Homo sapiens: one gene and its partner. The protein of the gene in region 1 purifies or fractionates together with the protein of each later gene. This does not show direct contact. Each region holds a gene or a part of one and is shown in the gene's direction. Other genes may lie near its edges.

Region 1 (7,522 bases):
CTCAAGTAAAGATATAACATAAATAACTGGATACATAATTCTGGAGATTCAGGGACGTTGGTTATTTCCATGGCTGGAAATAAGAACTGGGGAGTCATCAGTGTATAAAAATTACTTTTAACTAAGGCCCTGGATGAGTTTACCTGAGAAGAGAATATGGATAAACAAAAGAAGAGAGTATATACCCAACATCTGGAGCACTCCAATAGATATTAGGTATAGTAGGAGGAAAACGGAAAAAACAAGATCAGACCACACAGAAGTAAGAAATACAGGAAAGTGTGGTATCATAGAAGCCAAGAGGAGAAAGGTTTTTTTTGTTTTTGTTTTTTTTGTTTTTTTGTTTTGAGACAGAGTTTCGCTCTTGTTGTCAAGGCTGGATTGCAATGGCACAATTTGGGCTCACTGCAACCTCCGCCTCCCAGGTTCAAGTGATTCTCCTGCCTCAGCCTCCTGAGTAGCTGGGATTACACGCACACGCCACCACACCTGGCTAATTTTGTATTTTTAGTAGGGACGGGGTTTCTCCATGTTGGTCAGGCTGGTCTGGAACTCCTGACCTCAGGTGATCTGCCTGTCTCGGCCTCCCAAAGTGCTGGGATTACAGTCGTGAGCCACTGTGCCCAGCCCTTTAATTTTGACACAATCAGAAAAGAAAGTTTTTAAACAAAGGGTGGTCAGGTGTTTTTTTTTTTTTTTTCCCAAATGTTGGAAAGTTAAATAAAATGATATCAGAGAAGTGACCTCTGGAACACTTGGCGATGTCTGGAGACATTTTTGGTGATCATAATCGGGAGGGAGTTGTTACTGGCATCTATTGGACTGAGGTCAGGGACGCTGCTAAATATCCAACAATGCACAGAACAGCCTCCTTCAACAAAAAATTACCTGTCAACAGTTCTTTGGTCTGACTTAGAAAATTCATGCTAGCCGGGGCTCACACCCATAATCCCAACATTTTAGAAGGCCAAGGTGGGAGGATGGCTTGAGTTCAGGATTCATGATTAGCCTAGGCAACTTGGCGAAATGCCCTCACTATTAGACATTTTTTGTTTTAAATAACAACAGGCTGGGCCTGCGATCCCAGCATTTTGGGAGGCTGAGGCTGGTGGATAACTTGAGGCCAGGAGTTTGAGACCAGCTTGACCAACATGGTGAAACTCCTTCTCTACTAAAAACACAAAAATTAGCCAGGTGTGGTGTGTGCACCTGTAATCCCATATACTCAGGGGGTTGAGGAGAATCGCTTGAACCCGGGAGGCGGAGGTTAAAGTGAGCTGAGATAGTGCCATTGCACTCTAGCCTGGGCAACAGGACAAGACTCCATTTCACAAAACGGCAGCAACAACAACGACAATAAAAAACCCCCATAAATAGTAGCTTAATAATATAGCCTAATCATAGAAGGTCTAATAATAAACATAGCCTGGCCAGGCCTGGTGTGGCTTACACCTGTAATCCCAGCACTTTGGGAGGCATAGATGGGAAAATTGCTTGAGTCCAGCAGTTCCAGACCAGCCTGGGCAACATAGAAAGACCTTGTCTCTAAAAAAGATTGTTTTAAAAATTAAAACAAAACAAAAAACCATAGCCTAACAAATAGAGGGCTCCTAAATTATACTTACGTTCAAATTAATACCTTAGCCGAATACTCAGTGTTATTTTGGGGGAGTTACTTAATCTCAGTGCCAGAGTTTCCTCCTTTGTAAAACAGGAATGAGATAATGGATTACAAAATGCTTAATTAGCCCAGTTTCTGGGAGAAGGTAAAGTCAATGAATGTTGTTACTACAATTGACTAGATAGGTTGAATATGGCCTGAAGGTTGCAGATTGCTCTTTACTTTCCTAGAACCTCCCCTATTCTCCCCAAACAATCCAATTATCTTTTAATATGTTATTTCTAATCTGATATGAAACAAGAAATCAGATATCCACCCTTTTAAAAACTGGTTCTAAAATTAGTTCTAAATGGATTTCTGCATGTTGATGGCTTAGAGGCTTTCTTAACTCCTAGATTCCCAGTTATGTTCCTGAAGGGTTTTTTTAGCCACTTGACAAACGATAGGGAAGTCAATAATCATGTAATTATCAACCAAGATCAGCTAAATAAATCAATAATTTAAAGAATATAATCTTCATACTTTAGCAGTTTTGCCCCATTAGGATATCACATCACTATTCCAAATAATAATAGAACAACAATGTAATAGAGGCTAGGGAATCTGAAATAGGTCAAGTAAATATTACCATTGCTTCCCAGTACTAAATCTTCCAGCATTCCAATATTGGCCATGAGCAAATTTAGCTGCAGATAAGAATTACATTCCATTATCAGAGCGTTTAGCACAGTGAGTACTTATTGGCTCTGTATTGACTCTTGTTAACTCCCAAGCTCTAGAATGTTCTCATGCCTAGGCCCCATATCCTCTAGTATTCTAGAGGTATAGGACTGGATTATATGTGATATCAAGTCTTGCTTTTTTCACTCAAAGATATCTCTTCTAGTCTGGAGAGGTTAAAAAGAGGAAGTAACTTTTTAACAAGGATAACTGGGAGTTTTCCAACTGAATCCACAGAGCTTTTTAGAGGCTGGGTCTTAGACACAAACTTGCTCCCACCTACCATGGATAAGATCTTCAGAGGGGAAGACACTCATGGAAATAATTATGTCAAAAGATTGTCTTTAAATCTTGACCTAAAAGTATTATTGCATTTCCTGGATAACGTAGGGAAGGCAAAAATTTACTTACAAGGTGGTAGGATCTCCTCCATTAGATTGTAAGTGCCACAGGGAAGGGATTTGTAGTGATATTGTCAGTACCTAGGCAAGTGCTAACACTTAGTGAGCTCTCAGTGTAGAATCTGTTTCAGTGTGTGCACTAGGGTTTAATAGTTGTGACCAAATTTTTAAAAACTAAAAAAAAATGGAATTAATTTGTGGGGGTATTTGTGTCACAGAATGTAGTTTTTTTAGCCTGTGGTTAATATTTAAATCTACAATCCAATGCTATCAAAAGAAGGAGTCCTGTGATGGAATCCCAGCTATACTATTACGCCTAGTGTGATCTTGGAAAACTCAGCTTCTGCTTTGAAAAATGAGGAAAACATTTTCTATGAGCTCTGAAATTCTGTTTCTATACCTAGTATATAACAGGTTCTCAATATTTGTTGAATAAGTGATTCTATATTGCACTCAAGATTCCCTATTTAATTAGTAAAAAGTCTGAAAGATATTGCTCAAAAGCCTTTATCAAGTTAGCAAAATTTCTGAAAACTATTTCTTGGTAAACATTTTCAAACTTAGCAGTTTTAATCAAATATTTAATGAAATGAAAAACTTTATTTTTGTATATCTGATCACATAAGCAGCAAGTCTCCCCAATTCCTCAAGCACTTTAAATAATTTTGCCATATATCACTGATCAACTTTTAATGACTCAGCCTAAGAAATAAAAAATCAAGTATGAAACCAAATTATTGTACTTTGTACATTTGATTAGAAACCACATAAATTGAACCATACTAAATTGCTGATATTCAACGGTTTTTGACCTCCAAAAATGGCAATTTTTACATGGCTCACACTAAATATATTTAGCAATAAATAATGTGTTTTAAGAAATATTACAATAGGGCTTCTAAAGCCTCCCAATTCTCTCTTTTACTCTTATCATCTCCTGTCTGTTAGGGGTGTGGCAGGTATTTTTGGAAAATTTCACAATCTTATATCTCTCCTACATAACACAGGCAACTTGTAGTTTTAAAAGAGTATAAATTAGTAGTTTTGTTTTGGTAACTATCCTAAGGGGCTAGTAAGAATAATCAAACATTTTATTGAGAGAATATACTGTTAAGTTCCTTAATGTTCCTCAATTGTTTAAGTCAGTGGTTCACAACCTTTAAAGTTCATGACAATCAACAGAGAACTCGTTTCTGGGCCCTATCCCCAGAGATTCTGATTCCGTTTAGGTCGGGGTGGGACCCACGAATTTGACTTCCTAACACATTCACAAATTATGCTGATGCTGTGGGTACTAAAACCACTTTTAAGAACCACTGACCTGGGTATAGAAGAAACTATTTGTAACCAGGCTTTTTCTTCTTTTGGTCCTTAGGTAAATAAAACTCAAGTTGATGAGGTATGATTTTACCTTAAATCAAAACCATTTTTGGTAAAGTACTACCTTAGCTCTATTGTAAGGTAAGTGTAAATTAGATTTGCTTTGACTTAGTTGCTACAGACCACAATTATAGGACAACTAACTGAGGAATTTATTCACTTGTCCCTTCTTTTGAACCTCACTGTGCTCTGGCTTGCCAGGAGGTGCAAGTGTCGTCCCCGCTTTGTACTTGGCGCTCCAGGCCTGGGTCACTTCACTTGAGTTATCAGAGGCAACCGTCTAGTTTGACAAACTACCGGAGGCTCCTGATAGAGAAGGGCGTGGGCGCCAATCTAGGAGACAAAGCCTGAGCCGCTGCGGTGAGCCAACCCAAACCCATCCGCGGGTCTTCTTTCCAGAGACATTTTCGGAGCCGAGGGCGCCTCTGCGAGAGCGCTGCGAACAGGTTCCGACGCGCCGGAGATCGCGCGACGAATCTGCGCCTCGAACCCTCGCTTTCCAGCAGTCGCCGGATTGCTGCTCCACAGGGAGCCAACGCGCTTGAGGACCAGCCCAGCCGGGGCTCTCTGGATCAGTAGGCTGTGCAGGCTGCGAGCTCGTTGACGCATCTCAGCCCACTCCCTTGTCCTCCCGCCTGGCGAAGATGTCCGCCAAGCCTGAAGTCAGCTTAGTGCGCGAGGCTTCTCGGCAGATCGTGGCCGGTGGTTCTGCAGGTAAGGACAGCCCGCCCTGCCCCGCCGGAGGCTAGTCGCTTTCCCCACCGCGTGTCCTGAAACCGTTGCCCAGACAGGTCTCCTTACTGAAGTTCTGCCCTCTTCCTCAAAATTCAGCGCTCCCGGAGCAGTGCTTGAGCCCCTAGAGGCGCGAGAGCAGAGGAGGCCGGGAGTTGATTGCGAGTAGTGGGTGCCCCAAGTAAAGTTGCCTCGGCGTCCGCGCCGGCCGCTCTCGGGTTCCCGGCATTGTCCGTTCCTAGCCTGTAAAGCAAGTGGCAGAGCCCCAAGGGCAGCGACTTTGAGGCGGTCTTTTTGCCTTGCTACCTATTTTACTTGAAAATGATCCAGTTCGGTCTGACTTAGTTTTATCAATTGTAGAGTCTTTCTTCAAGCTCGCTCAGGTCTTACATAAATCCTGCATTCCTCATCAAAGTACTTACAGGACTCCACAGGACTTCTTATTGCATACTGTGCTTGCTTGGGGATATTCGTGCCTTAAATAAGGATATTAAAATTAAATGCATATGTAACACACATAAACACCTTTGATATAATGGGCTCACGTTAATTTATAGAGTTATGCTGTGGGGAAAAAATAAACCTTTAGAAAAAAATGTTGTAATTAATCTTAGAAATACTTTTAAATGTAGCTGGAGAAAGTTACTAACCACGACATGTGTTATGTGCAAGTATTTTAAAGCTATTTTAAAATATAAATTATGATTTGGTTTAAAATTTTATCTTACAGTCATGCATTTTTATTATAAATATATAATTAAAATAATTGCCATAATTGGCTCATAACCAGAAAACATTTTATAAATCTAGCCATTCTTTCAATAAATTATAGTAACTCTAATAAATCCTGTTAAGGCAATGACTAGAAAATGTTTAATGTTTAACTTCGACTAGTAAAAGTTTCTGTATTTTCAAACAAATTTGGACTTTTTGTAAGGGATTACTGCAAATTATGACTGGTTATCATTATGTCATGATCTACTTGCATCTCAGGAGTAACGTAAGCAGCCACGTGTCACTTACAATCTGTACACTTTCTTAAAGATGGTATTTCATCAATATCACATTAGAGCCATTCATTGCTTACAGGAAATTGTAAAATCTTTCCCCTCCCCTCCCCACCCCTCCCCTCCCCTCCCCTCCCCTCCCCCCTTTTTCTTTTCGATGGAGTCTCTCTCTGTTGCCCAGACTGGAAGGCACCGGAGCTGGATTGCCATGGCGCGATCTCGGCTCGCTGCTCCAACTCCCGGGTTCAAGCAATCCTCCCATCTCAGCCTCCTGAGTAGCTGGAATTACCGATGCGCATCACCATGCCGGCTATTTTTTTTTTTAATTTTTTTTGTAGAGACGGGCTTTCGCCATGTTGCCCAGGCTGGTCTCAACCTCCCGGGCTCAAGTGATCCTCTCACTGCAGCTTCCAGAGTAGCTGGGACTACAGGAGCCCACCACCATGCCCGGCTAGTTTTTTGGGGAGGTGGGGGAAGGGGATTTTTTTTTTTGTAGAGTCAGGGTTTCACCATGTTGTCCAGGCTGGTCTCCAACGCCTGGGTTCAAGCAATCTGACCCCCTTGACCTCCCAAAGTGGTGGGACTACAGGCGTGAGCCACCACCCGTTATTATAATTGCAGTGGCCCCACTGCTTGCTCTTTCAGTTTTCCAATTGTGATGATGAATTTGCACCAATTTATTTACCATTTTTGGTCAAATTCCGCAATGCCTAAGGTTCTGTCTTCTGTACCTGACTCGTTGATTTGTAGTCTATGACCCTGATGAAAGAAAACTCAGCTAGTCCAAAGAGAAAGTGAGGCCAATTGATTAACATCCTAAGCTAAGACTGATGACTCATAAGCACCTGTATGCTAATTTATATGATCATACTATGTATTAGGCACAGCTAAACTCAAAGAATGTTAAAAGTAGATCATACTCGGCCAGGCACGGTGTCTTACGCCTGTAATCCCAGGACTTTGTGAGGCGGAGGCAGGCGGATCACCAGGTCAAGAGATCGAGACCATCCTCCCCAACATGGTGAAACCCCGTTTCTACTAAAAATACAAAAATCAGCTGGGCTTGGTGGTGTCCGGCTACAGTCCCAGCTACTTGGGAGGCTGAGGCAGGAGAATCGCTTGAACCCAGGAGGCGGAGGTTGCAGTGAGCCGAGATCGTGCCACTGCACTCCAACCTGGCGACAGAGCGAGACTCGGTCTCAAAAAAAAAAAGTAGATCAAACTCTGATCCTACTTATGCTGTTTTGTTGAGTGATAAGTATTTGGCATAAATATGTGTGATTCCATCATATATTCTTATAAATGTAACTAATATAAATGCAAATTAGGATATTTATAAGATAAAAAATAGCATAGTTGATTTATATAGTTAATACTATGGAGTTATTAATAAATGATTAGAGTAACTTATACTTTCATAATAGTAAAAAAGAATTATATTTTCTTTTACTTGGCCAAAAACATTTTCATAAAACTTTATCTTTATTGCACTGTAGTACATGTGGGCTAATCATATTATATATACTTGGTCAAGGGCCAGATAGAAATCAATACACAAGAGAGGAAGAATTTTAATAAAAACAAAATAGATTTGAATCTCTGGCACTGGAGTTCTAATCACTGGTATTGTCCATGAATACAACACTTCTGTGTGTGTGTGT
Region 2 (7,037 bases), on another chromosome or scaffold:
GAATTTTAGGAAATTGAATTAAAAAAACGATAATATGTCATAAATAACTAGGGCCTAGTTCAGGACTGCAAGGTCGATTTAACATTTGAAATTCAATGGATGTAATGACCATGCTGACAAACTAAAAACAAAACTATATGATTGTCTCAACAGACACAGAAAAAGCATTTAGCAAAATTCAACCTCTATTCTTGAAAACTCTCAGCAAACTAGGAATAGAAGAGAACCTTTAGTCTAGTAAATTGTATGTACAAAAAACCTAGAATGAATATTATATCTAATGGTGAAAAATTGAATGCTTTCTGTAAGATAAAGAACAAGTTATTGATGTCTGTTCTTTTTTTTTTTTTTTTTTTTTTTTTTTTTTTTTTTTTTTTGAGACGGAGTTTCGCTCTTGTTGCCCAGGCTGGAGTGCAATGGCTCAATCTTGGCTCACTGCAACCTCCAGCTTCTGGGTTCAAGTGATTCTCCTGCCTCAGCATCCCGAGTAGCGGGGATTACAGGCATGGGCCATCATGCCCAGCTGATTTTGTATTTTTAGTAGAGACGGGGTTTCTCCATGTTGGTCAGGCTGGTCTTGAACTCCCGACCTCAGGTGATCCGCCCACCTTAGCCTCTCAAAGTGCTGGGATTACAGGCGTGAACCACTGTGCCTGGCCCATTCTTACCACTGCTAATTCAACATTGTACAGGTAGTTTTAGCCATTGCAATAAGTCAGGAAAAATCAAAGTCATTGTGATTGAAAAGACAGAAGTAAAACTATCTTTGTGTACAGGCATCGTGAATATCTATACAGAAAACCCAAATCTCCAAAACCCACTAGAACAAATAAGTGTTTGGCAAGTTCACAGAATACAAGATCAATATACAAAATAAATTGTATTTCTATCTATTATAAATGAATATCAGAAATTGAAGTTAAAAAGCAATATTTACTATAATACGAAGTAGGGAAAATCTGGAAAGGATATGCAAGACATATATACTTAAAACTACAAAAACATTGTTGAGAGAAATTAAAGAAGACCTAATGAAACAGAAGGATGTACTGGTTCATGATTTGAAGGATGCAATATTAAGATATCAGTTATGCACAAATTGATATGTAGATCTAAAATAATCCTGACCAAAATCACAGGAGTCTTTTTTGTAGAGATTGACAAAGTAATATTAAATTTCATATGGAAATGCAAAGAACTAGAATAGCCAAAACAACTTTGAAAAAAAAGATAGAGTACTAATACTACCTAATGTCAAAAGTTCTAACACTTTTATTCAGCTACAATAATCAAGACAGTATAGTTTTGGTGTCAAGTTCCACGAACACATCAATAGAATAAAGAGTCCAAGAGTAGACCCACATGTATGTGATGGAGAAGGGACAGTCTTCTCAACAAGTAATGTTGAAATAATGGGATATTCATAAGCACAAAAATAAACAATTCATAACTCATTCATATATAAAATTAACTCAAGATGAATCATAGACACAAACATAAAACCTCACACTATAACACTTACAGAAAAAAACTAGGAGAAAACTTTTGTGGTCTTGGGCTAGGCAAAGATCTTAAAATATGGCACCAAAAGCGTGATCCATAGAATTACAAATGGATAAATTGCACTTCATCAAAATTAAAAACTCTGCTTTTGAAAAGAAACTGTTTAGGAAAGAGAAAACGCAAGCCACAGCCTAGAAGAAAATATTTGCAAATCATATATTCTATAAACACCAGTGCCCAGAATATAAAAAGAAATCTCAAAACTCAGAAAACAAATAACCTAATTTTTTAAACAGATTATTAACAGCTAGAAATATGGAAGCAAATAAGCACAGAAAAAGATGTTCAACATTGTAGTCATTAGGGGAACACAATTAAAAGTATGATGGAATACCAGCACATGCATATTACAATAGCTAAAATTAAACATTGACCATATCAGGCATCAGTGAGAGTATAGAGGACCTGGAGTTCTCATACACTGATGGTGGGAATGCTAAATTGTATGACTACTTTGACAAATAGTTTGGCAGTTTCTTTAAAAATTGCACATATATGCAATTTAGTCATTTCATCCTTAGATGTCTTTCCAAGATAAATAAAAGTATATGTCCATTTGTTAAAAAGTATGCATGAATATGTGTAGCAGCTTCATTTTAACATTCAAAAACTAGAAACAAGTCAAATATCCATCAATAAGTGAATAAACCATAATATATCCATGCAATATAATGCTACTCAGTACAAGAAATATTAATGTATGCCCCAACATGATAAATCTTAAAATATGCTGAGTGAAATAAGCCAGATAAAAAAGAATATATTAGCTAAGATTTCATCTTTGTAAAAGTTTAGAAAATGCAGACTAATCTGCAAGAACAGAAATTATATTAGTGGTTTCCTTGGAAAGGTTTGTTGCGATGGGGACCATGGAGCATAGGAGCTTGAGGAAGCTAGCTTTTGTAGGTGTTAGATATTTTTGTTATTGTGCTTGTGGCAGTGGTGTCAGTGGTGCGTACATATGCCCAAACTGATCAAACTATACACTTTATTTCTATTTTTATTTTTTTAAGATGGAGTTTCACTCTTTTGTCTAGGCTGGAGTGAAGTGGCACGATCTCGGCTCACTGCAGCCTCTGCCTTCAGGTTCAAGCAATTCTCCTGCCTTAGCTTCCTGAGTAGCTGGGTTTATAGGTGCCCACCACCATGCCTGGCTGATTTTTGTATTTTTAATAGAGACAGGGTTTTGCCATGTTGGCCAGGCTTGTCTTGAACTCCTGACCTTGGGTGATCCACCCGCCTGGGCCTCCCCAAGTGCTGGGATTACAGGTGTGAGCCACCGGCCCCGGCTCCGGCCCCATACACTTTAAATGTGTGCCACTTTTTGTATTTTAATCATATCTCAATATAGTTTGTTTGTTTCAAGATCCCTAGTTGATTCAAACATACACACAAATTTGAGAATCACTACTCTAATCCTTCAAGTCCCTGATTTCACCCTGCAGAGGCAACCTCTTCTAGGCAGTTTCTTGTTCTGGAAACTGGAACATTCTAGAAATCCTGTGCACATGCAGGCATATATGAACATACATATCCTGTGTTCTAACTTCACAAATGGTAGCATACTTTACATAACATTCTGTATTTTACTTTTTTCACTTACTATATCTTGAAAATTATTCCATATCTATACATATGGAATGACCTCATTCTTTTTGACACCTATGTGTTAATGCAGTGGATCTGGATCCTAATTATTTTGACTATAAGAGGTGGTACTTTATTCTTACTCTAAAATAATTTGAGAATAGAGATGTAACTTAAATAGTTGCAGAGTTAATTTTCCTTTTAGGCATATCCTTAAGTCCTCATAGTCATAGTCATACTATATATTATAAAATGCCTTCATCTATGTGGGTATATAAGCTTTCTACAACACCAAATTTACTATGAATTAGGTAGTAATTTTTCACAGGTAAAGTTTGCATATTTATGTGAAATGTTGACAAGTGTTAACATTTTAAAAAGTTATTATGACATTTTATTTGCTTTGCTTATTCCCTCAATATGAAATGTGGTGTTTGGTTGTCCTTCCTCATTTAACACATATTTTATAAGTCTTCTTTTGTCCTTTGCTGGTCAATTTGGCATTGGTCTTTGGGCCACAGCTGTTCCAGAAATGTGTGCCATGCAGACTAATCTGTTATCAGTATGCACTTTTGGCGAACAAATTGGCTAAAATTGTACTGGCTTTTTTTTTTTTAAAAGCAGAAGGTCAAATTGTCCAATGCCAAATTTTTTTTTTATTTTTTAAAGTTAACCTCACTGTTTGGTTGATAGACTATGTTACAGGAGGAAGACCATCTACAAGACAATGTACCAATTTACCTAGAGGCTAAAACTCCTTATTGGTCATTTGTGTTTTCTTCATGGGTTTTTTGTAATTTTCAGTCTTACAGCAACAAGGATCTTAGTGTTCATTACCCAAACTATCTATATTGTACTATAATCTATGAATTTGTTTGATTTCTTGGTGAATATTAGAGTCTTTCGCTGACTAATGATAATTTGAACTTTTTGCCAACATTTCATTGGTTGTTGGATCAGTGCAATTTGTATCAACTGAGTATTTGTTTTGTATTTGTTAGCTGATGAAGTCAGTAAGAAGAGTCATTGCAGCTCCTTGCAGTAAATTCATTCACTCATTATTTTTCACATCATGGAATTTCATATTCTTGTGGTCAGGTTTCATAGCTCCTGTTCACCCCTTTGTCCTTCATTTTAAAGTATTTCAGGGGATTGTCCTTGTCCTAGTCAGTCATGTTTGCTTGCAGTCATACACCTGAGGTCATGTCTCTGAGGAGTCACTGTACAACAGAATAAATGTACATGTTTTGAATTTCATCTTTCTGTGCAGTGGTTGCTTTTTGGCTGAGAAAATGGTTTTACTGATTAGTGAGTTACCTCTAAGACCTCTCTGTATCTCTGAGTCCTTTACATTTTACTTAACCTGTGATATGTCACTCTAACCTAGGGAAAGTGTGGAGAGCCTGATTCAAAAGCATTCCTATGCACGCTCACCCATCCGTACCTACGGAGGAGAAGAAGATGTCTTGGGGGATGAGAGTCAGACAACCCCAAATCGAGGTAAGGTAGTTTCCAAGGCCATGGAATTGCTGGGAGGCAGAGCACCTAAAGGAGAATGGGGGCAGGTCGTTGATGAGATGGCCAGTCCTCAGAGTACACGATGCCGGGAAAGGATTTCAGGAGCCTCCTTGGGAAGGGAGAGCCCCGACACTGATCCTCACAGATTTCATTATTTTGCCTTTGAATCATAGGCGATGATGCTGCCTGCAGGTTTCCTATGGTTTGTTTTTTTTTTAAGTGAAAGAATACTGAGCCTTTGAGTCAGGGATCAGGAGTTACTTGTCCATGACTTAGTACATAAGAGCTGTTGAACTTTGGGGGCAGTCACCAAGTCCTTCTGAACCTCAGTTTCATAATCTGAAAGTCAGGGAATATATCTGTTCCATCTATGTCAGGTATAATTTGTTAGAATCAAAGACCAAAATAGAAAACACTTTTAAAAGAGGATTGTCCTAATGAAGGATATTACATAGAGGAAGTGGCCCCAGTGTTGACAGCAGGAACTGAACAAAGTTTCTCTGTTCCCAAGGCTTAGAGAGCAGCCCTCTGCATCTGGGAAGAGAGTCCAGAGAAAAGAGCCCAGAGGGGCTCCATTCTGGGAACAGTAAAGTTCGTATGGGGAGAGAGTCCTCTGCATTGTTTTATGTCCTTAATATGAAATTATATAATCTGTGAAAACATAGGACATTTCTTATTACTCAGTCCAAGTGAACCACTAGTATTACAGTTGACTCTTGAACAACACAGTGGTTGGGGAACCAACTCCTGTGTGGTCCAAAACGTGCATATAACTTTTCACTTCCTAAAACTTAACTGCTAATAGCCTACTGTTGATCAGAAGCCTTACCTGTAACATAAACAGTCAATTCACACATATTCTGTATGTTACATGTATTACATTCTGTATTCTAATAATCAAGCTAGAGAAAAAGTTATTAAGAAAATCATAGAAAGGAAATATATTTACTATTCCTTAAGTGGAAGTGGATCATCATAAAGGTCTTCATCCTCATCTTCACACTGAGTTGGCAGATGAGGAAGAGGAGGGGTTGGTCTTGCTGTCTCGGAGGTTGTAGAGGCTGAAGAGGTGGAGGAGGTGAAAGTGAGGCAAGAGGGGTCAGGCCTACTCAGTGTAAATTGTAGTGAAAAATATCTGCATGTAAGTGGACCCGTGCTGTTCTAACCCCTGTTGTTCAAGGGACAACTGTATACAGTCAGAAAATTCATTGTCAACTCTATTCTAAATTTCTGGATGCTGTGGTGGGAAAACTTACTTTCTTAGGTTCTCACAACAGTTTTGGAAACCAGACAGCTTGGTAGATATTTCTTACATTCAGCCTTCCTTAGGACACTACAGAGGTCAGAACAGATATCAGGTATTTGCAGCTTTTTTTAAGAGAATCAGGTCATTACCTGCAGGCAGGGTATTAATGTTTTGGCCAGTCTGTGGGAGTGTACAGGCTATCCAATGAGTTGTCTTTTTCCATTTAGTAAATTCTCTATTCCATGCAAGGTGTAAATATCATCTTCTTACCTAGAAAAGTAGATTTGCCTCGTGACAGATCTCATATGTGTTTGTCTTTCTAAATTACAGACGTATTAAATATTCTTAAACACAAATTGATCTTTACAGATAATTTAATTCTTGATCTGTACATTGACACAGTGTTTCCAGTCTAATGAGTGTTTTTCCTTACAGGGTCAGCCTTTACAACATCTGATAATTTGTCTCTCAGCTCCTGGGTATCATCTTCTTCCAGTTTTCCTGGGTTTCAGCACCCACAGTCCCTGACTGCTCTTGGCACCAGCACAGCATCCATAGCAACACCCATTCCTCACCCCATCCAGGGTTCTCTGCCACCATATAGCCGACTGGGAATGCCTCTGACACCATCGGCCATTGCCAGCTCCATGCAAGGGAGTGGCCCCACATTCCCTTCATTCCACATGCCGCGATACCATCACTATTTTCAGCAGGGGCCCTATGCTGCCATTCAAGGACTACGCCATTCCTCTGCTGTGATGACGCCATTTGTATGACTCTTCTAAAAATGGGAGAATCCAGATCCAGAATGTGCAAGTGGGTATGGAAATATAGGACAGGGCTGGGTGGGTGGGATGTGGGGTATCGGAGCAGGGGCTTTCCAGGAGACACAGGACCTATCAAAGAGGAGAGCCAGACTCACAATAAAACCTACCACTGAGGGAATGCACCACGGACCAGGATTCATCTGAGGGACAGCTCTTGGGTTCAGGAGAGAATCCATGTAAAGTTCTCAGCCAGCCTGAAAGTTTACTAATACAAGGCTGATGAATCTTAAAGTGCATTATTCCTCATGGTTAAAACGCTGTGTTCATGCAGTAATGTATAAAATCATTGTGTGTAG

Evidence for each region.
Region 2: the proteins of SLC25A21 (region 1) and TBX20 purify together in Homo sapiens (affinity purification with mass spectrometry; 3 studies listed by BioGRID and IntAct, with this or other methods). This does not show direct contact.

Annotation. Positions count from the first base shown.
Region 1 is NC_000014.9:37,169,595-37,177,116, reverse strand, and holds the start of SLC25A21 (mitochondrial 2-oxodicarboxylate carrier), read left to right. Parts: upstream 1-4,510; 5' UTR 4,511-4,766; coding exon 4,767-4,836; exon of another isoform or gene 4,837-5,091; intron 5,092-7,522. UniProt on the Homo sapiens protein: Transports dicarboxylates across the inner membranes of mitochondria by a counter-exchange mechanism.
Region 2 is NC_000007.14:35,202,083-35,209,119, reverse strand, and holds the end of TBX20 (T-box transcription factor TBX20), read left to right. Parts: intron 1-4,537; coding exon 4,538-4,650; intron 4,651-6,349; coding exon 6,350-6,690; downstream 6,691-7,037. UniProt on the Homo sapiens protein: Acts as a transcriptional activator and repressor required for cardiac development and may have key roles in the maintenance of functional and structural phenotypes in adult heart.